Linked DNA regions of Homo sapiens. Each later gene encodes a partner of the first gene's protein in a complex. Each region holds a gene or a part of one and is shown in the gene's direction. Other genes may lie near its edges. The genes, in order: KLRC4-KLRK1 and RAET1L.

The links.
Region 2: the proteins of KLRC4-KLRK1 (region 1) and RAET1L are in contact, whole or in part, in a crystal structure (PDB 4S0U), measured with the Homo sapiens proteins. Residues at the interface, in NP_001186734.1 of Homo sapiens: Lys150, Ser151, Tyr152, Ile182, Met184, Lys186, Leu191, Lys197, Tyr199, Glu201, Asn207; in NP_570970.2 of Homo sapiens: Val93 (codon at 676), Glu103 (codon at 706), Glu154 (codon at 1,652), Asp177 (codon at 1,721), Met180 (codon at 1,730), Ser181 (codon at 1,733), His183 (codon at 1,739), Tyr184 (codon at 1,742), Ile185 (codon at 1,745), Met187 (codon at 1,751), Gly188 (codon at 1,754), Asp189 (codon at 1,757).

What each region holds. Positions count from the first base shown.
Region 1 is NC_000012.12:10,378,900-10,386,190, reverse strand, and holds part of KLRC4-KLRK1 (NKG2-D type II integral membrane protein), read left to right. Parts: intron 1-6,354; exon of another isoform or gene 6,355-6,398; coding exon 6,399-6,491; intron 6,492-6,708; coding exon 6,709-6,744; intron 6,745-7,291. Other genes in the region: KLRK1 (NKG2-D type II integral membrane protein), read left to right, coding at 6,399-6,491, 6,709-6,744.
Region 2 is NC_000006.12:150,017,738-150,022,727, reverse strand, and holds the end of RAET1L (UL16-binding protein 6 precursor), read left to right. Parts: intron 1-484; coding exon 485-748; intron 749-1,541; coding exon 1,542-1,823; intron 1,824-2,488; coding exon 2,489-2,598; 3' UTR 2,599-2,620; intron 2,621-3,872; 3' UTR 3,873-4,394; downstream 4,395-4,990. UniProt on the Homo sapiens protein: Binds and activates the KLRK1/NKG2D receptor, mediating natural killer cell cytotoxicity.

The sequences.
Region 1 (7,291 bases):
GTATGAAATGTATCATTATTTCTCATAGCAAGACCTAAGAAACAATTTAAATATCCACTGGAAAAAAAAATTGACAGTCCGTCAAAAATTAGATCTGTCCAGAGTTGTCAGTGAAATACAATGCAGCTATTTATAAATTTGGTATCCTTATACGCCATGAGGACTAATCACCAGGATATTGTCTTAGGTAAAAAAAAAAAAAAAATTCATAGGATATTTTGTGTATTATAGTTTCTTTAAAATGTATTTTTAATATGTAGTTAAGGGGAACGGTAATTTTTGTTTATTTTTAGTTGGCATGTAATAATTATACATATTTATGGGATACAGTGATATTTCCATTCAACTATACAATGTCTAATGACCAAATCAAGGTAATTAGCACACCCATCACCTCAACATTTATCACTTCTTTGTGTTGGGAACATTCAAAACCTTCTCTTCTAGCTATCTGAAAATATACAATAAATTACTCTTAACAGTACTCTCCCTACAGTGCTATAGAACACTAGAAAAATCCCGCATGTAGCTGTAATTTTGTATTCATTAACCAACCTCTCCCAATCTTCTCCTCCCCCCTATTCTTTCTAGCCTTAAATAACCACAATTCTACTCTCTACTTCTGTGAGCTAAAAGTTTGTATCTCCTACATATGAGTGAGAACATGTGGTATTTATCTTTCCATGCCTGATTTACTCTACGTAACATTATGTACTTCTGACTCATCCATGTTGGTGCAAATAATAGGATTTCATTCTTTTCATTCTTTTTTTTATGACTGAATGGTATTCCTCTGTGTGTGTGTGTGTGTGTGTGTGTGTGTCTGTGTGTGCTTAGCTATTTATCTGTTAATGGACACAGGTTAATTCCATATCTTGGCTATTGTGAATAATGCTGCAATAAACATGGGGGTGCAGACGTTACTTCAATATACTGATTTCCTTTCCATTGGAGAAAGACCCAGATTGCTGAGTCATATGGTAGTTATATTTTTAGTTTTTTAAGGGACCTCCATACTGTTTCCATAATGGCTATACTAATTTACATTCCCACCAAAATTGTATAAACATTAGCCTTTCCCTGCATCCTCACTGTCATTTGTTATTTTTTGTCTTTTTAAATAATAGCTATTCTAACTAGGGTGAGATGATATTCATTGTGGTTTTGATTTTCATCTTCTTGATGATGAATGATGTTGAATTTCAAAAAATATATCTGTGGCTATTTGTATATCTTCTCAGAAATATCTATTCAGATCCTTTGCTCATTTTCAAATCAGTTTTTGTTGTTGCTGTTGAGTTGTTTGAATTCCTTGTATATTCTGGATATTGGTCTCTTGTTAGAGGAATAGTTTGCGAGTATTTTCTCTTATTCTACAAGTTGTCTCTTCACTCTGTCAATTGTTTCCTATGCAGTAGAGAAGTGTGTTAGTTTGATACAATCTCATTTGTTTCTTTTTGCTTTTGTTGCCTGTACTTTTGAATTCTTACCCATAAAATCTTTGCCTAGACTAATGTCCTGTGGTGTTTCTCTTATCTCTTCTAGTAGTGTTATAGATTCAGTTCTTATATTTAAGTCATTAATCCATTTTGAGTTGATTTTTGTATATGGTGTGAGATGAGGGTCTAATTTCATTCCTCTATGTGGATATCCAGTTTTTTCAGCTTCATTTATTGAAGAGGCTCTCCTTTCCCAGTGTATGTTATTGGTGACTTTCTGGAAAAATCAGTTGGCTATAATACATGGATTTATTCCTGGGTTGTCTATTCTGTTTTATTGGTCTAGGTGTCTATTTTTATATCAATGCCATACTGTTTTGGTTGTTGTAGTTTTGTCGTATATATTGAAGTCAGGTAACGTGATGCCACCAGTTTTCTTCATTTTTGTTCAAGATTGCTTTGGCTATTCAGTCTTTTGTGGTACCATATAAATTTTAAGATATTTTTCTATTTCTGTAGAGAATGTTACTGGTATCGTGTTAGGAATTGCACTGAATCTGTAGATTGCTTTGAGTCATATGATTACTTTAACAATATTCTTTCTGTCTATGAACATGAGATGTCTTTCCATTTTTTTGCATCCTCTTTGGTTTCATTCATCAGTATTTTACAGTTTTCATTGTAGAGGTCTTTCACTTGTGTGATTAAATTTATTCCAGGGTATTTTATTATTTGTAGGTATTACAAATGGAATTGACTTCTTGATTTCTTTTTCATCCAGTTTGTTATTGGTGTATAGAAACACTACTGATTTTTGTATGCAGATTTTTGATCCTGAAACTTTACTGAATTTGTTTATTTGTTCAAAGGCATGTTGTTTAATTTTCATGTATCTGTGCAGTTTCCAAAGTTCCTCGTTATCAATTTCTAGTTTTATTCCATTGTTGTCAGAAAATTTACTTGATATAATATTGACTTTTGGAAATGTTTTGAGACTTATCACCTAGCATATGGTCTGTCCTGATGAATGTTCCATGTGCTGATAAGAAGAATGTGTATTTTGCAGCAGTTGGATGAAATGTTCTGTACATTTAGTTAGGTTCATTAGGTCTATATTATAGTTTTACTCTGATGTTTCTTTTATGATTTTCTGCCTGAATGATCTGTCCATTGCTTAAAATGTGTTGTTGAACTCCCCTGCCCTTATTGTATTCATCTATTTCTCCCTTCAGATCTATTAATATTTACTTAATATATCTGAGTGCTGTAATATTGGGTGCATATGTATACTTATAAATACTATATTATATTGCTGAAGTGACCCATTTGTCATTATATAATGGTCTTCTTTGACTCTTTTTTACTCTTTTTGACTTAAAGTCTATTTTATCTAAGTATAGCTGTGCCTGCTCTTTACTGGTTTTCATTTTCATGGAATATCTGTTTTCATCCCTATACAGTCAGTCTATGTGTGTTTTTATGAGCAAAGTGGGTTTCTTGTAGGCAATATATTGTTTGGTTTTTTTTGTTTTTAATCCATTCAGTCACTCTATGTCTTTTACTTGGAGAATTTAGCCCCCTTGCATTTAATATTATTATTGGTATGTAAGAACTTACTATTGCCATTTTGTTCCTTGTTTTCTAGTGGTTTTGTAAGTCTTCCTTTCTTCCTGTCTTCCTTTGTGATTAAGTTGCTTTCTCTGGCAGTGTATTTTAATTCCTTGATTTTCATTTTAGTGTATCTATTATAGGTTTTTGTTTTGTGGTTACTGTGAGACTTACAAGGACATCTTATAGCTTATAGCAATTATTTTATACTGATGACAGCTTAACTTTGATCACAAAGCAAAGAAAAACAAAACAACAAAAGAAAAAACTAAACAACTCTACACTTTAACTCCATCTCCTCTCACATGTTGACTTATGTTTGTATGGATTTACATCATTTTATATTGACTATCTCTTAATAAATTGTAATTACTATTATTTTGATAGAGTTGTCTTTTGGTCTTCATAAGATCTGAGTGGTTGAGGCACCACAATTACAGTATTAGAATATTCTGAATTTGTCTGTGTACTTACTTTTATCAGTGAGTTTTATACATTCAAATGTTTTCTTATTGCACATTTGTGTTCTTTTTTTTCTGACTGAAAAAACTCTCTTTAGCATATCATGTAAGACAGGTCTGGTGGTAATAAATTCACTCAACTTCTGTTTGCCTGAGAAATACTTTTTCTCTCCATCATGTCGATAGTTTTGCTGGGTACGGTATCTCAGTTGGCATTTTGTTTTCCTTGGGTCTTTGAATATGTCACCCCACTTCCTCTTGGCCTATAAAGTTTCTGCTAAGAAGTCTGCTAACAGATGTGTTGAAGCTTCTTTATATTTATTTTGCTTTTTAAATTTTGCTTCCTTTAAAATTCTCACTTTGTCTGGAGCTTTGAACATTTAAATTTTATATGTCTTGTGGTGATCTCATTTGGGTTGAATCTGCTTGCTAATCTTTGACCTTCCGGTATTTGGTTATTCATATCTTTCTCTGGGTTTGGAAAGTTTTCTGTTTGTCCACAGCCTCCCAGACCAGTGCTGTGCCAGGGCTTGCCCAAGGGCCATGGTTGCTATGGCCTGCAACCACTGAAATTTTCTTGGGACCAAGGCCACTTTAGTCAGCTGGTGATAAAGTGGGCTGAGACTAAGGTTCTTCCTGCCTAAGCAGTGGATTCACCTCTGGCCCACGGTGGGTCAAAATGCTCCCCATATGAGCACTGGTTTGGAATCAAGGGCCATGGGGTCTCTGTCTTTTGCTGTGTTCCAATGTGGTGGGGCCAGGTCTAAGTTCCGACACAAAGTCCCACACTCTTATTTCCATTTCCCAAGCAGGCAGTTTTTCTCTAAGCACTGCACTATCTGGGTTTGGAAGAGAGGCGTTTAGGCAAGGCAAGACCATCTTTTCTTACCTCTTTAATGTGTTTTTTCTCGTTATCATGCTAAAATCAGGGTACTGTGATAGCGCACCTAATTTCTTGAATTCTTTTGAAGGTATTTTCTTGCATGGATAATTATTTAATTTGATGTTTCTGTGAGAAGATAATCACTAAAGGGTTCTTCACAGCCAGCTTGCTCTTCTGCCATTTTCTTAATTGTTTTCTGATATACCTGTTGTTTTGCCTACCCATTGATTTTTTTCTCCTCTATCATTATTTATCTTTGTGGTTTGGTGGTTCTCTGTAGCCATAATGTTTGATTCCTTTCTCTTTCTTATTTGTGTATCTGCTCTACCAACCAGTTTTATACTTTTGTGTATTTTTATGATGATAGATATTGTCCTTTTGCTTCCAGATATAGGACTCCCTTAAGCATCTCTTGTGGGGCTAGTCTAGTGGTGATGAATTCCCTCAGTTTTTGCTTGTCTGGAAGAGTATTTCTCCTTTATTTCTAAAGGATAGTTTCGCTTAATACAGTATTCTTGTTTGGGAGGAGGTATTTTTTTTTTTTGGCATTTTGAATATATCATCCCATGCTTTTCTGGCCTGCTGCTGGAGAAAGTGGGATTGCTGGCAGTGGTGGCACTGGGCTCCAAGTGAGTGGCTCTGGGAATCTGGGGGGGCGCATGCATGACTCTCTCTATGCTGAGGACAGACTCTGTGCTTGGCTGCATCTCCTGTTCCCTGGGCATAGGGCTCTGTATAGGCTTGATGCAAGGGTCATGACTACACCTTTGGTTGGGATCACCTGGTGTGGCTATGCTACAGTCCTCTAGGTGGATTTGGTGGAATGTCAGCAGGGCCCCAGGGATGTGAAGATGCATAAGCTATTGGGCCCCAAACATGCGAAGATAAAGGAACTATTAGGCCCCAGGGCAGAGCGTACTTTGGTGGTGGCTACACTCTCAAAATGGTGCAGTGCTGCTGCAGCCTGTGTTCCAGAGAAGAGGAGGGACCCCAGTGTGAATTCCCACTCTGGAATAATGCAGTTATGTGGATGTCAGTGAACTCCCTATACTGGACTCAGGGATCGTGAGGAATGTGGAGCTCTCCTATACCTAGGATAGCAGGTATTTATAATGGGAATGTGGACTGCTGGGGAGCTCCTGTTTACCTTTTCTCCTCAGTGGAGAGTCCCTCTTGGCTCCAAGCTGATCCATGTCACCTGCTTCTCTTCCCTTTCTATGCTATCGCCCTGAGCATCTGTGCCTCAGAGAGACTTGGTCACTTTCTTGCTGAATTCCAGCCTTCTCCCTTCAACACTCTATTCAATGTGTGGTTATCTACTTGTTGTTTTGGTCCTTTGTGGAAGTGAGTGCTGGGTGCCTGTAGTTAGCCATCTTGATGATGCTTCCTCCTTCTTTATGTTTATTATTGTATCTGCATAAAAATAATAAATCACGGCCGGGTGCGGTGGCTCACGCCTGTAATCCCAGCACTTTGGGAGGCCGAGGCGGGCGGATCACGAGGTCAGGAGATCGAGACCGTCCTGGCTAACACGGTGAAACCCTATCTCTACTAAAAATACAGAACATTAGCTGGGAGTGGTGGCGGGCACCTGTAGTCCCAGCTACTCGGGAGGGTGAGGCAGGAGAATGGCGTGAACCCAGGAGGTGGAGCTTGCAGTGAGCCGAGATCGCGCCACTGCACTCCAGCCTGGGCGACAGAGCGAGACTCCGTCTCAAAAAAAAAAAAAAAAAAAAAAAACAATAACAACAAAAAATCATAAGCATAATTTACTCTAGGGATGACTGGGGAACTTGTAGAGAAGTATAGAAGGAAATATTACATTGTTGTACTCTAGTTTTTGATCATTTGCGAGGTATTTATGTTCTGTTCTGGAAAAAATTATTAAGGCAGAAAAAGGATCAATACCACCTTCTCATTTAAAAAACTCTAATATTTATATTAAATACAAAGATACCCAAACCTTTTATGCTTCTTTCTCTGATCTGTGTCTTTTTTCTTTGACAGCATCTCCATTTTTTTTCTGCTGCTTCATCGCTGTAGCCATGGGAATCCGTTTCATTATTATGGTAACAATATGGAGTGCTGTATTCCTAAACTGTAAGTGACAACAGAGAAGTAGATTGCAACATTGTCAATTTAACAATGCTAATGTATTATTTTTGTTAGTATTCATAAACACAGACACATAAACTAGAAATATTAAATGTATCTTTGTCACATTTTTGCTATTAGTCCAGAAATTTGTAAACTATATTTGCTTATACTATAAGTTACTAACAATACAAACTTTTAATACTTATGGTTATTTTAATAGCATTATTCAACCAAGAAGTTCAAATTCCCTTGACCGGTAAGTGAATTTTTAAAATATTTTAGATCATATATTATATGTATCTACCTACATTATTGTGTAGACATGTATTCCATGATTAAAAAAGGAAAAAGTAATTAATTCTAGTCTGTAATACACTATGGCTTCTGTTTTCCTTTTAACAATGAGGGAATACTTGTAAAAAGTAGAGGCTACTTAGGTTTGACATCATCTTTCTCTCTCTCTCTCTCTTTTTTTTTTTTTTTTTTTTGAGATGGGGTCTCACTCTGTCACCCAGGCTGGAGTGCAGTGGGGTGATCTCAGCACAATGCAACCTTCGCCTCCCAGTTTCAAGCAATTCTCATGCCTCAGCCTCCCAAGTACCTGGGACTGCAACCTCTACCTCCTAGGTTCAAGCAATTCTCCTGCCTCAGCTTCCAAGTAGCTGGGACTGCAGGCGTGAGCCACCACACCCGGCTAATTTTTGTATTTTTAGTAGAGGCAGGGTTTCACCATGTTGGCCAGGCTGGTATCAAACTTCTAACCTCAAGTGAGTCACCTGCCTTGGCCTCCCAAAGTGCTAGGA
Region 2 (4,990 bases), on another chromosome or scaffold:
CATGTTACATCCTGTGACCATGATAATTAACTCTTCTTTATCCAACGGGGTTCCATCCTCACTCTGTTCAACCAGCACCAGCATCCACAGGGGTGGACCCACACCCTCTCCCACCTCCCGCAGTCCACGTGGGCTACTGCTGAAGATCCTCTGCCATCCAGGCCCTTCCTCCTCTCTTGCTAGAGAGGCCTGGCACCTTTCTAGCAAGGTCATGTGTTGACTGATGTGGGCAGAGGGGCAGTGGGACATGTCTGGGGACATGTGGTTTCTCAGCAGACAGAGACTTCCTCCTCCTCCTCCTCCTTGTCCTCATGCAAGGGGCGAGCACTCGCCTTAAACTTGTAGACACCACAGTTCTGGAGGGGGCACTCCTTCCTGGGCCAGCCCAGCCTGCCAGAGGCATCCTCTTATTGACACAGCGTGGAGGGGGGCTAACTAGGGGTCTTTTCCTCCCCACCCACCCCTCACCTGCCTTTCTCCACAGACCCTCACTCTCTTTGCTATGACATCACCGTCATCCCTAAGTTCAGACCTGGACCACGGTGGTGTGCGGTTCAAGGCCAGGTGGATGAAAAGACTTTTCTTCACTATGACTGTGGCAACAAGACAGTCACACCCGTCAGTCCCCTGGGGAAGAAACTAAATGTCACAATGGCCTGGAAAGCACAGAACCCAGTACTGAGAGAGGTGGTGGACATACTTACAGAGCAACTGCTTGACATTCAGCTGGAGAATTACACACCCAAGGGTAAGTTTCAGATGGCCCAGGACAGCAGGGAGCAGATACAGTGGTAGGTTAGAGGCATTTATAGTTTTCATGTAAAAATACAAAAGGGTCCTGGGCACGGTGGCTCACGCCTGTAGTCCCAGCACTTTGTGAGGTAGAGGTGGGCCGATCACAAGGTCAGGAATTCGAGACCGCCTGACCAACATAGTGAAACACTGTCTCTACCGAAATGCAAAAATTAGCCAGGCATGGTGGCGCATGCCTGTAATCCCAGCAACTTGGGAGGCTGAGGCAGGAGGATCCCTTGAACCCGGCAGGCAGACGCTGCAGTGAGCCGAGGTGGTGCCATTGCACTCCAGCCTGGGCAACAGAGTGAGACTTTGTCTCAAAAAAAAAAAAAAAAGCCAGGTGCAGTGGCTCAAGCCTGTAATCCCAGCATTTTGGGAGGCTGAGGTAGGCGGATCACAAGGTCAAGAGATCGAGACCATCCTGGTTAACACAGTGAAACCCTGTCTGTACTAAAAATACAAAAAAATAGCCGGGTATGGTGGCGGGCGCCTGTAGTCCTAGCTACTTAGGAGGCTGAGTGAGCCGAGATCGCGCCACTGCACTCCATCCAGCCTGGGTGACAGAGCGAGACCCTTTCTCAAAAAAAAAAAAAAAAATACAAATGGGAAGGTCATCTTACCCCTCAAGAGTCTAGAGGCAAGGCCAAGATGTAGCAGAGAGAGTAAGGCCAGCAAATTGTAAGGGGAACAGGATGGGGGTGCAAAATTTGTCAAGATCAGAGCTGATCTCTCTCTGATGGGGGCAGAACCCCTCACCCTGCAGGCAAGGATGTCTTGTGAGCAGAAAGCTGAAGGACACAGCAGTGGATCTTGGCAGTTCAGTATCGATGGACAGACCTTCCTACTCTTTGACTCAGAGAAGAGAATGTGGACAACGGTTCATCCTGGAGCCAGAAAGATGAAAGAAAAGTGGGAGAATGACAAGGATGTGGCCATGTCCTTCCATTACATCTCAATGGGAGACTGCATAGGATGGCTTGAGGACTTCTTGATGGGCATGGACAGCACCCTGGAGCCAAGTGCAGGAGGTAACAGGAGAAAAAGAAACGGGGATCTTAAATGAGATCAGAAATGGGGATCTCAAGAAGTTAGTTCTTGAGTTCAGCTTCAATCATCCCAGTGTACACGTTTATGTTAAAATGACCTCCTCGTCGGGCCCTCCTCCTGGGGTTACTGGCATGCCTGTGCCCTCCCACCCTCCTCTTCCTTCTCCCTCCTGACTCCTATTCCTCACTGCACTTGCTTCTGCTCCCCACACTGTGGATTTCTCACCAGCCTTGAAACTGCAGGTGTCACTGTTTTCAGAACTTTTTCCTTAGTGTTTCCTCTTTTGAGAATCACTTTTCCTTTCCTTTCCCTGGTCTGGTTCTGGAAATCCATCAAAACCACTTCCAACACCAGCCAGAGATCCTCCCCTCCCCAACTCTGGGGCATCACCTCCTCTTCCCCCACAGCAGGAGGGTGGGGTGTGTTGTCACCTTGCTTCCCTCAGCAGCTGTGTGAGCTCCCTGAGGACAAGACACACCCCGTCTCCCTTCCTAAGCCAGGACCTGTCATACTGGCTGCCCCACACCAGGGGGGAGGGGACAAAACTTTTGCCTTCCAGGATGACCTAGGGTGGCAGGAACTGAGGAGGTGTCTCCTCAGATTTGGGGCCTGGACAAGGGTTGTCACTTTTGTGTTTCCATTTCAGCACCACTCGCCATGTCCTCAGGCACAACCCAACTCAGGGCCACAGCCACCACCCTCATCCTTTGCTGCCTCCTCATCATCCTCCCCTGCTTCATCCTCCCTGGCATCTGAGGAGAGTCCTTTAGAGTGACAGGTACTGTGGGCAGAATTGGAAGTGGAGCAAGGAGCAGGTGGGTGAGGAGGCAGGATGGGGAAAGAGAATTCCCGGAGTCCCGCCCCTCCCCGTGGCTGGGACCTTCTCATCCTAACATGAGACAGGTGAATGAGACCTTGTGTTGCCTGTTGGCAATGTTGGCAATGACCTGGGCAGCTCAGCCCTGAGTTCTGATGGTTTCTCACCTTCAGAGTCCAGAGGGAAAGGGAGGGGCCCATACCAAGGCTCAGGGTCTGTTGAGCTTGAGAAGGTTTAGCAAGTTCAGGCCTGATTCAGAGCAGGTTCCTATTCAGGAAGGGTGTGTGGCCTGCAGGCAGCAGGAATTCAGACATGGGCAGTCCTCTTAATTGGGTTAGGTGCATCATGGTAGCTTTACATGAGGTGTGACAGGGGAAGGGGGATTCCATCTCTGAGGCTAAGAGAGATCTGGGTGTAATCCCAGGAGGAGGGGGCTGGGAGAGCCTTGGTACACCTAATTGAAAAGGAGGGAGTGCAGGGCTGCCTTCCCACAGAAAGTAGGTGGAAGGTGAAGAGTAGAGGCTGCTCAAGAGAAGGATTTTTAAAAAGTCAGTCCCATGTACCCGTGGGGTTTGAGTCTGGGCCCTGAGGCAGCTCCCCTGCCATCACACTCCTGCACACCCCAGATCCTGAGCCCAGTCATAGCCCTGCCAGGAGCAGAGTGGACTCAGAGGAAGGAGCATCTGAGCTGCTGCTGGGGTTCCACGGGCACCACTGGGCTGGATAAGGAATGGAAAAGGTGGAACAGGGACAGTCACCTTCAGAACTATGGGTGCTGCTCCCAGTGTGAGGTGATGCTCAAGAAGAAGGGGAAAGAAGGATGTTTGCCTGCAGGCCCACCAAAGGCCAAGGGCACAGGAATACAGAGCCCTCTCTTTGGAAGTCTGTCCCACCCCTTGCCATGTTTTAGACCCTGTCATCAGATGATAAAGAGGGCCTTGAGTGAGGGAGCGGACCCATCACTACCAGCTTCAGACCTGTGGGCCCCTCCACTCCATCCCCTGGTCAGGTGCAGGGCCTGGGCTGACTCTGTGATGTGACAAAGGAGGAAAGAGGTAGGTCCAAGCTGCAGTCGCCAGGGTTGGGGCTCAAGGGAAAAATAGGTCCCTTAGTGCAGGGGGCTCTGAGACATAGAGTGACTAGGGAAAGATTACCGTGGAAAAGTGATCCGGGTTCTCTGCCTCTTAAACCAACATTTGGGTCCTTTCTGAAGGTTAAAGATGATACCAAAAAGCCCCTGTGAGCACGGTCTTGATCAACCTCGCCCTTCTGTCTGGCCAGCTGCCCACCACCTACGGTGTATGTCCAGCAGCCTCCAGCAGATGATGATGACACCATGGACCCAATAGCTCATTCACTGCCTTGATTCCTTTTGCCAACAATTTAACCAGTGATTATTCCTAACATATTATGCAATTTTCTCTTGGTGCTACCTGATGGAATTCCTGCACTTAAAGTTCTGGCTGACTAAACAAGATATGTCAACATTTTCTTTCTTCTCTTTTTGTTTGGAAAATCAAGTACTTCTTTGAATGATGATTTCTTTCTTTCATTACTGACATGATTGTCAGTAAAACAATCATGTTAGACTTCAGACCTCCAGGGATTCTTTCCATGTCCTGAAAGAGAATTGTTTAATTATTTAATAAGAAAAAAATTTATATTAATGATTGTTTCCTTTAGTAATTTATTGCTGTGTACTGATATTTAAATAAAGAGTTATATTTCCCAAAAACCTACTGAGTTTAGAATTTTGTTGTATTACTCAGTAGAGAATTAATGTTATTTCATTTTTCCTCCATGATATGGAGTAATAAATGAGTGATTCTGCCAGACTTTGTGTGGAAAAAGAGAATCTACAAAACATGGCTGAAAAAAATCAGAGACAAAACAAATACATGGAAAAATATTTCATGCTCATGGGTTGGAGAATCAATATAGCTAAAATGGCCATACTTCCAAAAGCAATTTATAGATGCAACACTATCTCTATCAATACCAATGTCATTTTCCACAAAATTAGACAAATCTAATCTAAAAGTTCTTTGGAGTTAAAAAAGAGCCCAAATAGCCAAAACAATCATAAGCAAAAAGAACAAAGCCAGAGACACCACATAGCCTGACTTCAAACTATAATATAAGGCTACAGTGATCAAAACAGAATGGTACTGGTACCAAAATAGACACTTAGATCAGTGGAACAGAATAGACAGCTCAGAAAGAAACCTTCACACCTTTTAACTTTCAACAAAATCAACAAAAAAAGCAATGAGGAAAGAGTCCTAATTCAATAAATGGTGCTGGGATAACTGGCTAGCCATGTGTAGGAGA